Regions from separate parts of the Homo sapiens genome. Here region 1 is linked to region 2. The links come from fine-mapping of genetic effects on gene expression. Tissue or cell type: minor salivary gland. Region 2 holds a variant in brackets; the other region holds the start of a gene. All regions are shown on one strand. Distances are from middle to middle.

What was found. PIP is the estimated chance that this variant, and not a neighbour inherited with it, causes the effect.
Region 1: it holds the start of FZD10, and the variant in region 2 is the best candidate, but not a certain one, in a credible set for the expression of FZD10 in minor salivary gland (GTEx, PIP 0.60).

The regions. Positions count from the first base shown.
Region 1 is chr12:130,159,980-130,165,351 of GRCh38, forward strand. FZD10 (frizzled class receptor 10) reads left to right here and starts at 2,485. Exons shown (of 1, transcript NM_007197.4): 1 at 2,485-5,372. The coding sequence starts at 2,964. The coding sequence ends at 4,709. It overlaps FZD10-AS1 (FZD10 antisense RNA 1), which reads right to left and starts at 1,699. Exons shown (of 4, transcript NR_033834.1): 1 at 678-1,699. RefSeq lists enhancers at 965-1,531, 1,532-2,098, 3,685-4,680, 4,766-5,311.
Region 2 is chr12:130,209,928-130,215,299 of GRCh38, forward strand. No RefSeq gene overlaps it. Among named protein-coding and RNA genes, the nearest start is that of FZD10, 50 kb to the left of the region's middle. The variant G/A (reference allele first, on the strand shown) is at 2,924.

The DNA of each region.
Region 1 (5,372 bases), 50 kb before region 2:
TTCCATCTCAGCTGGACAGGGCGAAGCACTTCTGCAGACATTTTTATAAAAAACGAGAGAAAAAGGCAATCTGAAGTGGTTATAGCTAAAATAATGGGCCTGAACGTGGCTGAATTAAAACAGCACAGAAAAGATCAATTAGGAGGCACTTTCTCAAATAGCTCACACCCAGCTCCCGGCGTTTGGCTCTCACTCTTGCACTAAATATTTCTAATAGTTGCTGAGGGAGAGACACAAAAAGGAAAAGAAGGAAAATAGGGCCCAGGAAGGACCTTTGCCAGGAAAATTCTAGAAAAGCCAAGTGATTTCCGCTGAATTAATTTTAATTTAAAGGTCCTGAAAAATTACTCACTAGACAAAAAACAACAACAACAAAAAAAAAAACACTATAATAAAAATGGCAGTCTTTCAAAAATAAAATCATGCAACTTTTCACTTGGGAAATAACACAGTTGAAGGTGGTGTTCTAACTGCCCGGAGTTTCTACCTTCTTTTTCACTTTCTCCCTCACCCCGACTTCCTCCAGCACCTCCTAGTGAGACCCAGGACACCCAGGGACAGCGACCCAGGGGTGGGTGCCTGAACCTGCCTATTAATTCTGGGATTCTGGGCGCTCAAATGTCTGTTGAACGGATGAATGAATGAGTGGAAAGGTGAGATTTCCCCAAGTTTCTTACCGATGTAAAAATTGTAGGGCTTGTTTTAATTAAAAGCCAATACTCTCCGAGGAAGTGGCCCCCTCCTGCACGGCGTGCAGAAAGCTGGTCAGTGAGGGGGGTTCCTGGCGGGCCCCATCTCCTTCCCGGGCGCTTCCTAGGGAGACCTTGCCCCGTGCGCAGCGTCCCCACCGCGGGGGCCCGTGCAGCCGCCCCCCACGCCGGGTGGAGCGCCGCCAACGCGGGAAGCCCCAGCACTGCCTCCAAAGATGTCCGCACACTCCACCCTGCTCCCTGGAACTATCCTCAAACGGGCAGGGGGCAAGCGAGGCCGGTGGACGCGGGACTCGCTCCTCTGACCTCTCCCCGGCCCCCCGGGAGGTAGCGGGAGATTGCACACGCGATCCTGCGAGTTTCCGAACTTTGGAAGATCGTGACCCGGAGAGACCCTGGGAGGAGAGGGCCGGCCACCTCCTAGGGGTGCTGTTTTTTTAAGGGTCAACCCAGGACGCTACGGGAAGCACCTGGCGCATCCTTGGGAACAGTGGGGCTTGGCGGTGGGCGCCCACCGCGAACGCCCTGGGCGGGGGAAGGGAATGGCGGGGGGACGTCGTGTCCTAAGTGACCCCGTCACAGACCCGCCCCAATCCGAGGGGGGATGAGCTCAGAGGACCTGCCCAGGACGCTCCTTCTCCACTTTCCAGGAAAACCGAGCGGCGTGCGCGCCTCCGTGTCCTCGCGGGAGCTGGGGGTCCCCGGGCAGGCGCTGACGCGCTCCTCCCACGACCCACTCCATCCCACCCTACTCCGGGTCCTCCTGCGGGGCTGCAGCCAAGGAGGGCGCTGGCCGGGCACATCACTCGCCAAATCACATAAATACCCCACGAGCGAATGACTTCCTATAATAAATAAACTCAGCCGCCAAGAAGGCATCTCCAGCCCTGCTGGCGCGAGGCCCCGGCTCTGCGGCTTCGGAGGGGGCGGGGGTCACCGCGGTACAAACCAAGCCCGCACTTCCCGCGGGGTGGGAGGCGGTGTTCAAAGTCCCGGGACGCTTCCCGCCCCTCCCCCTTCCCGCCTTCTTAGAGGAGACCTCGGATGAGCGGCCCTAAAATCCGGATTCTCGAGCCCCTCCCCCTCCCCTTAGCTCGTCTCTTTGAAATTTCAAAGAAAATCCCTCCTCGGAGCCCGGAGCCCGGGGCTGGTAGCACCTCCCCAGCCTCAGGAAGATGCGGGCAGGTTTACAAGCAAGGGCCTACTTTATGGCCCAGGCTATAAAACGCAAATCCCACCTCCCTTTGAAAGCGCCCTCCGCCCGGGACTCACCATAAAAGGAAGAGAAGATGCACCCCGCGCCCCTCGCCGCGGACCACCCCCAAACCCCTTCTCCCGCCAGTCCCCGAACTTCCCGTAACCTCGGCGTCCTCGGGGTGCCGGGGACCATCCCGGGGACCGCCGGGAAAGGGGGCGCCGGCGGAGAGGATAGCGAGAGGCAAAGTTGGAGGCCAGGCAGAGAGAGGGCGAGGAGAGGCGGGCGGGACTGCCGGGGAGGGTCGCAGCGCGCAGAGCCCCGCGCGCCAGGCGGGCTGTCCCGGGGCTGGCGGGCGACGCGGGCGGGACTAGGCGCTGCGCCCCCCGCAGGCTGGGCTGCAGGCCGGGGGGGATCGGCCCCCGCGGGGCCCGGGAGCCCGCGGCGGGGCGGCGGGGAGGAGGCTGCCCCGGGCCGCTGCGCTTTCTCATGCAAAGCAGCGGCGGGGCGGGGCGCGCGGCCCGGGGGCGGGGCCTGTCAGCGCTCGGCTTTTCTGCCCCCCTTTGCCTTTTTGCGAGTCTTCTCATCCCGGGACGCAAACCTCGAAACAGCTGCCGGCTGGTCCCGGCCGAGGCCGGCGCAGGGAGGGAGGAGCCGCCCGGGCTGTGGGGGCGCCGCGAGCTGGGCCGGCCTCGGTGTGCCCGCGCCGCCAGCCCGCTCCAGACGCGCCACCTGGGCGCTCCAAGAAGAGGCCGAAGTTTGCCGCGGCCGTGAGTTGGAGCTCGCGCCGGGCCGCTGCGCCGGGAGCTCCGGGGGCTTCCCTCGCTTCCCGGTATTGTTTGCAAACTTTGCTGCTCTCCGCCGCGGCCCCCAACTCGGCGGACGCCGGGCGCGGAGAGCCGAGCCGGGGGCGCTGTGCGCAGCGCTCGGGCCAGGCCGGGCGGGCATGGGCGGGGGCCCGAGCAGGGGTGGAGAGCCGGGGCCAGCAGCAGCCCGTGCCCGGGAGCGGCGGCGCTGAGGGGCGCGGAGCTCCCCGCGAGGACACGTCCAACGCCAGCATGCAGCGCCCGGGCCCCCGCCTGTGGCTGGTCCTGCAGGTGATGGGCTCGTGCGCCGCCATCAGCTCCATGGACATGGAGCGCCCGGGCGACGGCAAATGCCAGCCCATCGAGATCCCGATGTGCAAGGACATCGGCTACAACATGACTCGTATGCCCAACCTGATGGGCCACGAGAACCAGCGCGAGGCAGCCATCCAGTTGCACGAGTTCGCGCCGCTGGTGGAGTACGGCTGCCACGGCCACCTCCGCTTCTTCCTGTGCTCGCTGTACGCGCCGATGTGCACCGAGCAGGTCTCTACCCCCATCCCCGCCTGCCGGGTCATGTGCGAGCAGGCCCGGCTCAAGTGCTCCCCGATTATGGAGCAGTTCAACTTCAAGTGGCCCGACTCCCTGGACTGCCGGAAACTCCCCAACAAGAACGACCCCAACTACCTGTGCATGGAGGCGCCCAACAACGGCTCGGACGAGCCCACCCGGGGCTCGGGCCTGTTCCCGCCGCTGTTCCGGCCGCAGCGGCCCCACAGCGCGCAGGAGCACCCGCTGAAGGACGGGGGCCCCGGGCGCGGCGGCTGCGACAACCCGGGCAAGTTCCACCACGTGGAGAAGAGCGCGTCGTGCGCGCCGCTCTGCACGCCCGGCGTGGACGTGTACTGGAGCCGCGAGGACAAGCGCTTCGCAGTGGTCTGGCTGGCCATCTGGGCGGTGCTGTGCTTCTTCTCCAGCGCCTTCACCGTGCTCACCTTCCTCATCGACCCGGCCCGCTTCCGCTACCCCGAGCGCCCCATCATCTTCCTCTCCATGTGCTACTGCGTCTACTCCGTGGGCTACCTCATCCGCCTCTTCGCCGGCGCCGAGAGCATCGCCTGCGACCGGGACAGCGGCCAGCTCTATGTCATCCAGGAGGGACTGGAGAGCACCGGCTGCACGCTGGTCTTCCTGGTCCTCTACTACTTCGGCATGGCCAGCTCGCTGTGGTGGGTGGTCCTCACGCTCACCTGGTTCCTGGCCGCCGGCAAGAAGTGGGGCCACGAGGCCATCGAAGCCAACAGCAGCTACTTCCACCTGGCAGCCTGGGCCATCCCGGCGGTGAAGACCATCCTGATCCTGGTCATGCGCAGGGTGGCGGGGGACGAGCTCACCGGGGTCTGCTACGTGGGCAGCATGGACGTCAACGCGCTCACCGGCTTCGTGCTCATTCCCCTGGCCTGCTACCTGGTCATCGGCACGTCCTTCATCCTCTCGGGCTTCGTGGCCCTGTTCCACATCCGGAGGGTGATGAAGACGGGCGGCGAGAACACGGACAAGCTGGAGAAGCTCATGGTGCGTATCGGGCTCTTCTCTGTGCTGTACACCGTGCCGGCCACCTGTGTGATCGCCTGCTACTTTTACGAACGCCTCAACATGGATTACTGGAAGATCCTGGCGGCGCAGCACAAGTGCAAAATGAACAACCAGACTAAAACGCTGGACTGCCTGATGGCCGCCTCCATCCCCGCCGTGGAGATCTTCATGGTGAAGATCTTTATGCTGCTGGTGGTGGGGATCACCAGCGGGATGTGGATTTGGACCTCCAAGACTCTGCAGTCCTGGCAGCAGGTGTGCAGCCGTAGGTTAAAGAAGAAGAGCCGGAGAAAACCGGCCAGCGTGATCACCAGCGGTGGGATTTACAAAAAAGCCCAGCATCCCCAGAAAACTCACCACGGGAAATATGAGATCCCTGCCCAGTCGCCCACCTGCGTGTGAACAGGGCTGGAGGGAAGGGCACAGGGGCGCCCGGAGCTAAGATGTGGTGCTTTTCTTGGTTGTGTTTTTCTTTCTTCTTCTTCTTTTTTTTTTTTTATAAAAGCAAAAGAGAAATACATAAAAAAGTGTTTACCCTGAAATTCAGGATGCTGTGATACACTGAAAGGAAAAATGTACTTAAAGGGTTTTGTTTTGTTTTGGTTTTCCAGCGAAGGGAAGCTCCTCCAGTGAAGTAGCCTCTTGTGTAACTAATTTGTGGTAAAGTAGTTGATTCAGCCCTCAGAAGAAAACTTTTGTTTAGAGCCCTCCCTAAATATACATCTGTGTATTTGAGTTGGCTTTGCTACCCATTTACAAATAAGAGGACAGATAACTGCTTTGCAAATTCAAGAGCCTCCCCTGGGTTAACAAATGAGCCATCCCCAGGGCCCACCCCCAGGAAGGCCACAGTGCTGGGCGGCATCCCTGCAGAGGAAAGACAGGACCCGGGGCCCGCCTCACACCCCAGTGGATTTGGAGTTGCTTAAAATAGACTCCGGCCTTCACCAATAGTCTCTCTGCAAGACAGAAACCTCCATCAAACCTCACATTTGTGAACTCAAACGATGTGCAATACATTTTTTTCTCTTTCCTTGAAAATAAAAAGAGAAACAAGTATTTTGC
Region 2 (5,372 bases):
TTTTCTACTTCTTTATTTAACTCTGGTAATTATTCCTTTCATCCAGATAAGGATTCATTCATACCTTCATACCTCTTGGTATGAGGGTATACATGGCATTCTCTAAGTTTTATAAATCTCTGCCATATCACTAAGTATTTTGTCTTATTTCTATCATGAACAATTTAGTTTTTCTCTCTCTCTTGTTCTCACTCTTGCTCTCGCTCAAGTTTGCCAAGAGATTTATCTATCTTAATCTATTCAAAGCTATGGTTCTTTACTTTATCAATTCTGTTTTTTATTCCTTAATTTTTTTCTATACAACTAATTTGTTTTCCATTTCACCTATTTTATTCATTAATTTCTTATTTTTTCTTAGCTTCTTCAGTTAAATATTTAATTCATTTGTTTTTAGCCACTTTATTAATAATAAGAGGATGTTCAGTCCAGGAATTTTCCCCTGATTACAGGTTGGGCCACATTCTGGTTTTTGTTGTTATTGCTATTGCTTGTTTTTTTTTTTTTTAACCTTCATCTTAAAGTTTAAATATGTGTGAAATACACACATAATTAAGAGTATCCAGTGCTTATAATTTAAGAAGCATCCCTTTTCCTCTCTCATACGGCCCCACGACTCCATGTTTGCTTTCCCAGGAGAAAGCATGCTGGATTGTTGCAGCTCTCTCTGGTCCATTTCCATTTTAAAAAGGTGTTTTCAGCATTACATCATGATATAGTATTAGTTTTAGACATTATCTGTTGACTGCCTGTTAGAAGAAACTATAGTCTCTTTTGTATGTGGCCCCTGCCTCCTTCCCTGCCACTCTCCCAGTATGAGTGAGATCATTTTTCTGAGATTATTTCTATAGCTCGATCACTTCTCAGGGCTTGTATTTGGAACATCTTATCTTGCCCAGTTTTTCCTGTGAATGTGGAAGAAACACTTGCCAATGAACCTGGCTGGACCCAGGCTCTTCTCTCCTTGAATAGCGGCAATAACCACAAGTCTTCAGCTTGACCTCTCAAGTCCACAGCGGCGGCCCGGGGTAGTCCATCAGGGGCTACCTAGGGTGGCTACAGATTTGGCTAGAGCCTTACCTAATACCTGAGAAAGTTGGCTTAGAGCTTCTCGTTTGGAAGAACTCATAGTTTTTGTCTCGCACTTTGTTTTTTTTTTTTTTTTTTAATTCTTGAGTTTATTTTTTCATTTTACTTTAAGTTCTGGGATACATGTGCAGAATGCGCATGTTTGTTACATAGGTATACATGTGCCATGATGATTTGCTGCACCCATCAACCTGTCATCTAGGTTTCAAGCCCTGCCTGTATTTAGTATTTGTCCTAATGCTCTCCCTCCCCTTGCCCCCCACCCGCCGACAGGCCCCAGTGTGTGACGTTCCCTCTCTGTGTCCATGTGTTCTCATTGTTCAACTCTTACTTATGAGTGAGAACATGCGGTGTTTGGTTTTCTGTCCTTGTGATAGTTTGCTGAGAATGATGGCTTCCAGCTTCATCCATATCCCTGCAAAGGACATTAACTCATTCTTTTTTACGGCTGCATAGTATTCCATGGTGTATATGTACCATATTTTCTTTCTCCAGTCTATCATTGATGGGCATTTGGGTTGGTTCCAAGTCTTTGCTATTGTAAATAGTGCTCCAATAAACATACGTGTGCATACCACAATGAGATACCATCTCGTGCTGGTTAGAATGGAGATTATTAAAAAGTCAGGAAACAACAGATGCTGGTGAGGCTGTGGAGAAATAGGAACACTTTTACACTACTGGTGGGAGTGTAAATTAGTTCAACCATTGTGGAAGACAGTTTGGCGATTCCTCAAGGATCTAGAACCAGAAATACCATTTTACCTAGCAATCCCATTACTGGGTATATGCCCAAAGGATTATAAATCATTCTACTTTGTTATATTTTTATTTATTGTGGAATATTTTATTTTATTTATTTTATTTTATTTGAGATAGGGCCTTGCTCAGTCACCCTGACTAGAATGCAGTGGCACAATTAAGACTCACTGTAGCCTCCACCACCAAGGATCAGGTGATCCTCCCACCTCACCCTCCAGAGTAGGTGGGACTACAGGTGCACTACCAGGCCCAGCTAATTTTTAAATTTTTTGTAGAGACAAGGCCTCATTGTGTTGCCCAGACTGGTCTCAAACCCCTGACCTCAAGCAATCCTTCCATGTTGGCTTCCCAAAGTGCTGAGATTACAGACGTGAGCCGCTGCACCCAGCCTATTATGGAATATTTTAACTTACACAAGTGAATATAGTAGTATAATGAACTCCCAGCTTCAGAGAGAGCGAGAGAGAATAGTGAGTCACTTAGCTTTAAGACTGTCAGTTCACAGCCAATCTGACTTCATCTATACCTCTATCCACTTTCCCACTCCTCTATTATCTTGAAGCAAATCCTAGAAATCATATTTTATTCATAAATATTTCAGTATGTTTCTCTAACAGATAAGGACACTTTCTTTAATATAACCATGATGCCATTATCCTAAAATAGTAATTCCTTAATATCAACAAAAATCCACTCAGTATTCAAATTTCCGGTTGTCTTCTAAAAGTCATATGGGGTCAAACCAAGTCTCTTTGATTTTAGGTTCTACTTGTCGGTTTGAACCAGGCGCTGAACAGCTCCACACCTGCTGACTGGCTGTACTATCTTTTGTTTTCATCTCTGGAGTTCCCAGCCATTTTTTTTTTTCAACATTTGTGGAAGAAACCAGTTTCTTTTGTCCTGTTTCCTAGTTTCGATTTTGCTAATCATGTCCTTGTGGGGCGTTGTGTAATATTTTTCTCTGTCTTCTGTGTTTTTTTGTGGATTGGAAGCTGGAGCAGTGGGGTTCATGAAACTCGATTTTTTTAAACAGGAAATCTATCTACGTGAGGTGTTGTCTTACAAGGAGGCATAC[G/A]ATGCTTGATTGTCTTTCATTTTGTTATGTTAACAGACCTGTGTTCAATGCCTGGATCCATTATTTTAAGAAGGCTTGCCAAATGTTAATGCTCCGTTCTCTTGTTTCCTCATCCATTCAGTGGAATAACTCCACAAAGAGAAGCTTCCTCCCAAATACTATTTAGTAATTGTGTGGCAATATTTTAAGTCTTTTTCTTTCATTAACATACATCAACAACAAATATAAGATTTGCTATGTATAACTCCATGTGTGTATATGGAAACTGAGGACTCTGAGTTGTCAAAGACTCCTAGAGCTGCCTAAGGAGTTTCATCAATAGATCTCTCACTGTTGTTGGTCAGCAGCTTGGAGACAGTTCCTTGACAGTGCCTGGCTGTCTAGAAGAGAACAGTCCACTCCCCATTCTCACTGGAGCTTGGTGTATCTGTGTGACTATGTTCCGGTCATTGAGATAAAAGTGGAAAACATGAGGCTGCTTTCATGAAGCTGTCTTAGAAGGCAGCTTTGCTGGCTCCTGACCTCCTCTTCCTTGCCTCTTCCTCGTGCTTGGAATACATGGAATGCAGAAGAGAGGGCTGGAGGTCCTGCAGCCTTCTTGGACTAGGAAGTCAAGCTCCACACCCTAGAAATAGCAAACATGAAAGCCACAAAGTCCACGGATCCCTGAAACTCTCCACATGCCATATTAACCTGAGCTGCCCACCTGCAGGTTGCTTTCACGTGAGAGGGAAATAGATTGCTATCTTCTGTAAGATACTGTATTGGGGATAAGGAGGTTCTATTAATCTTGATGAGTGGAGTTGTCCAGCTCCCACATCCTCCCAGGTGAAGCAGCTCTTCTCTTCACTCTGCAAACCTTGAAGACCTGCTTGGAGAAGGGCTGGGGGGAGCATGGGTCATATTCTCCTTTGGCACTCCCTCCACTGGCTCCAGCTCAATAACCTTTAATTCGGATGACACATGACCCCACTCAGCTACTCCAGTCCTGAAGTAGAGTTAAATGGGAAGTTATGTGCTCCAGATACAACTCTGGTCTTATCTCCTACCTCTTTAAAGCATCTGTGGAGGCACAGACGCCAGCAGCAATGGCCTCCCTCCCGCAGGATTCTGTCATCTCCTGTTTCCAGGCACCTGGAATCTTATGGGGCTTTTTAACTTCCAATCATAAAACAGCTTTCTCTGTCATCCAAGGCATGCATGGGCCATCTCAGCCCTTTGATCCCCTCTCTCCCTAACAATGCTCACCCCCTTGGACTGTGTTTCTCCAACATGTCTGGTTCTGCCAGCACACATGCTAAAAAAGGACAAATGTGGTTTCTTCTCTGTTATGATCATCTTGTCTGGAGAATTTGCCAGAATTCATGGAGTTGCATAAAGGTGCTAAGTGGAAAAATGGACTGTATTTAAGCTCAATTGTTTTGAGCTATGAAAATGCAAAGATGTGCCTCCACCTTGCTTCTTGCAGATTTTATCTAAGGGTCTAGAAATCTACAATAAGACATAAATGCCATCTACCCTCTCTGAGACTTTTGAGTCCATAAAGCAAATCATCACCCTCTAATTAAGACCTGCTTGTGTTTTCTGATTAACAGTTAAGGGGGTTATTTTTGATATTTCATGTGGGAGCTTCACATGTGTGTGTCGACCAATATCTCAGATCAATGTGTGCGTTCACAGAGCTTTGTGTAGTGCTGTGCATCGTGCTCCTAATCCCACTTTTAGTAAATAAAAAAGAAGTGAGGTGGTAGAGATAGCAAGTGCACACATAGGGGCAGAAGGAATTGGTGTGAGACTAAGCATGATCTAATCTAATCAGAGACTCAAATTTATGAGACTCATTACGAGACTATGACACACATGTGCTTATTTCCACTTTACAAATGCGGAAACTGAGCTAGCGAGTGATGCAAACAAAATTCTAATTCCAGCCTTGTCTACTTCCAAAACCCGTGTTCTTCCCCTGCACTGCTCCCCTGCTGTTGATTTGAGCCTGGTGGTGAACCTCGGCTGCTACCAAATTTATCAGTGGGAGGTCCTTGTAGGAGAGCATCTGGAAGGAAGAGGGCGTAGGAGACCTATCTTGAGGTTGTGTTTGCACGGGAAGAAAGCTCATTGCTCTCGTGGAGTGGGGAGGCTGGAGATAATAAGGGGGCTAAATAAAGCTCCTTAATGTAGGACTCCAATCCCAGCAAAGGAATATGACAGAACCAAAAAGCAAAACCAGGCAACTCATGTAGGAAGGTGGTCCCCGCTGGCTCCCCTTCCAATTTCAGGAGCACTGTAGAGGCTACGGGGTTGCATTTCGTATTCTCTTCCTTTACTGATGACAAGTTGATACATGAAACCACAGGGAAGTTGTTGAATCATCTGAATGACATTTTTCTCCCTGACTTAATATATTCTTCAGTTAAAAGAACGCTCTGAAGAGGTTTTGTCCCCCGGGGTT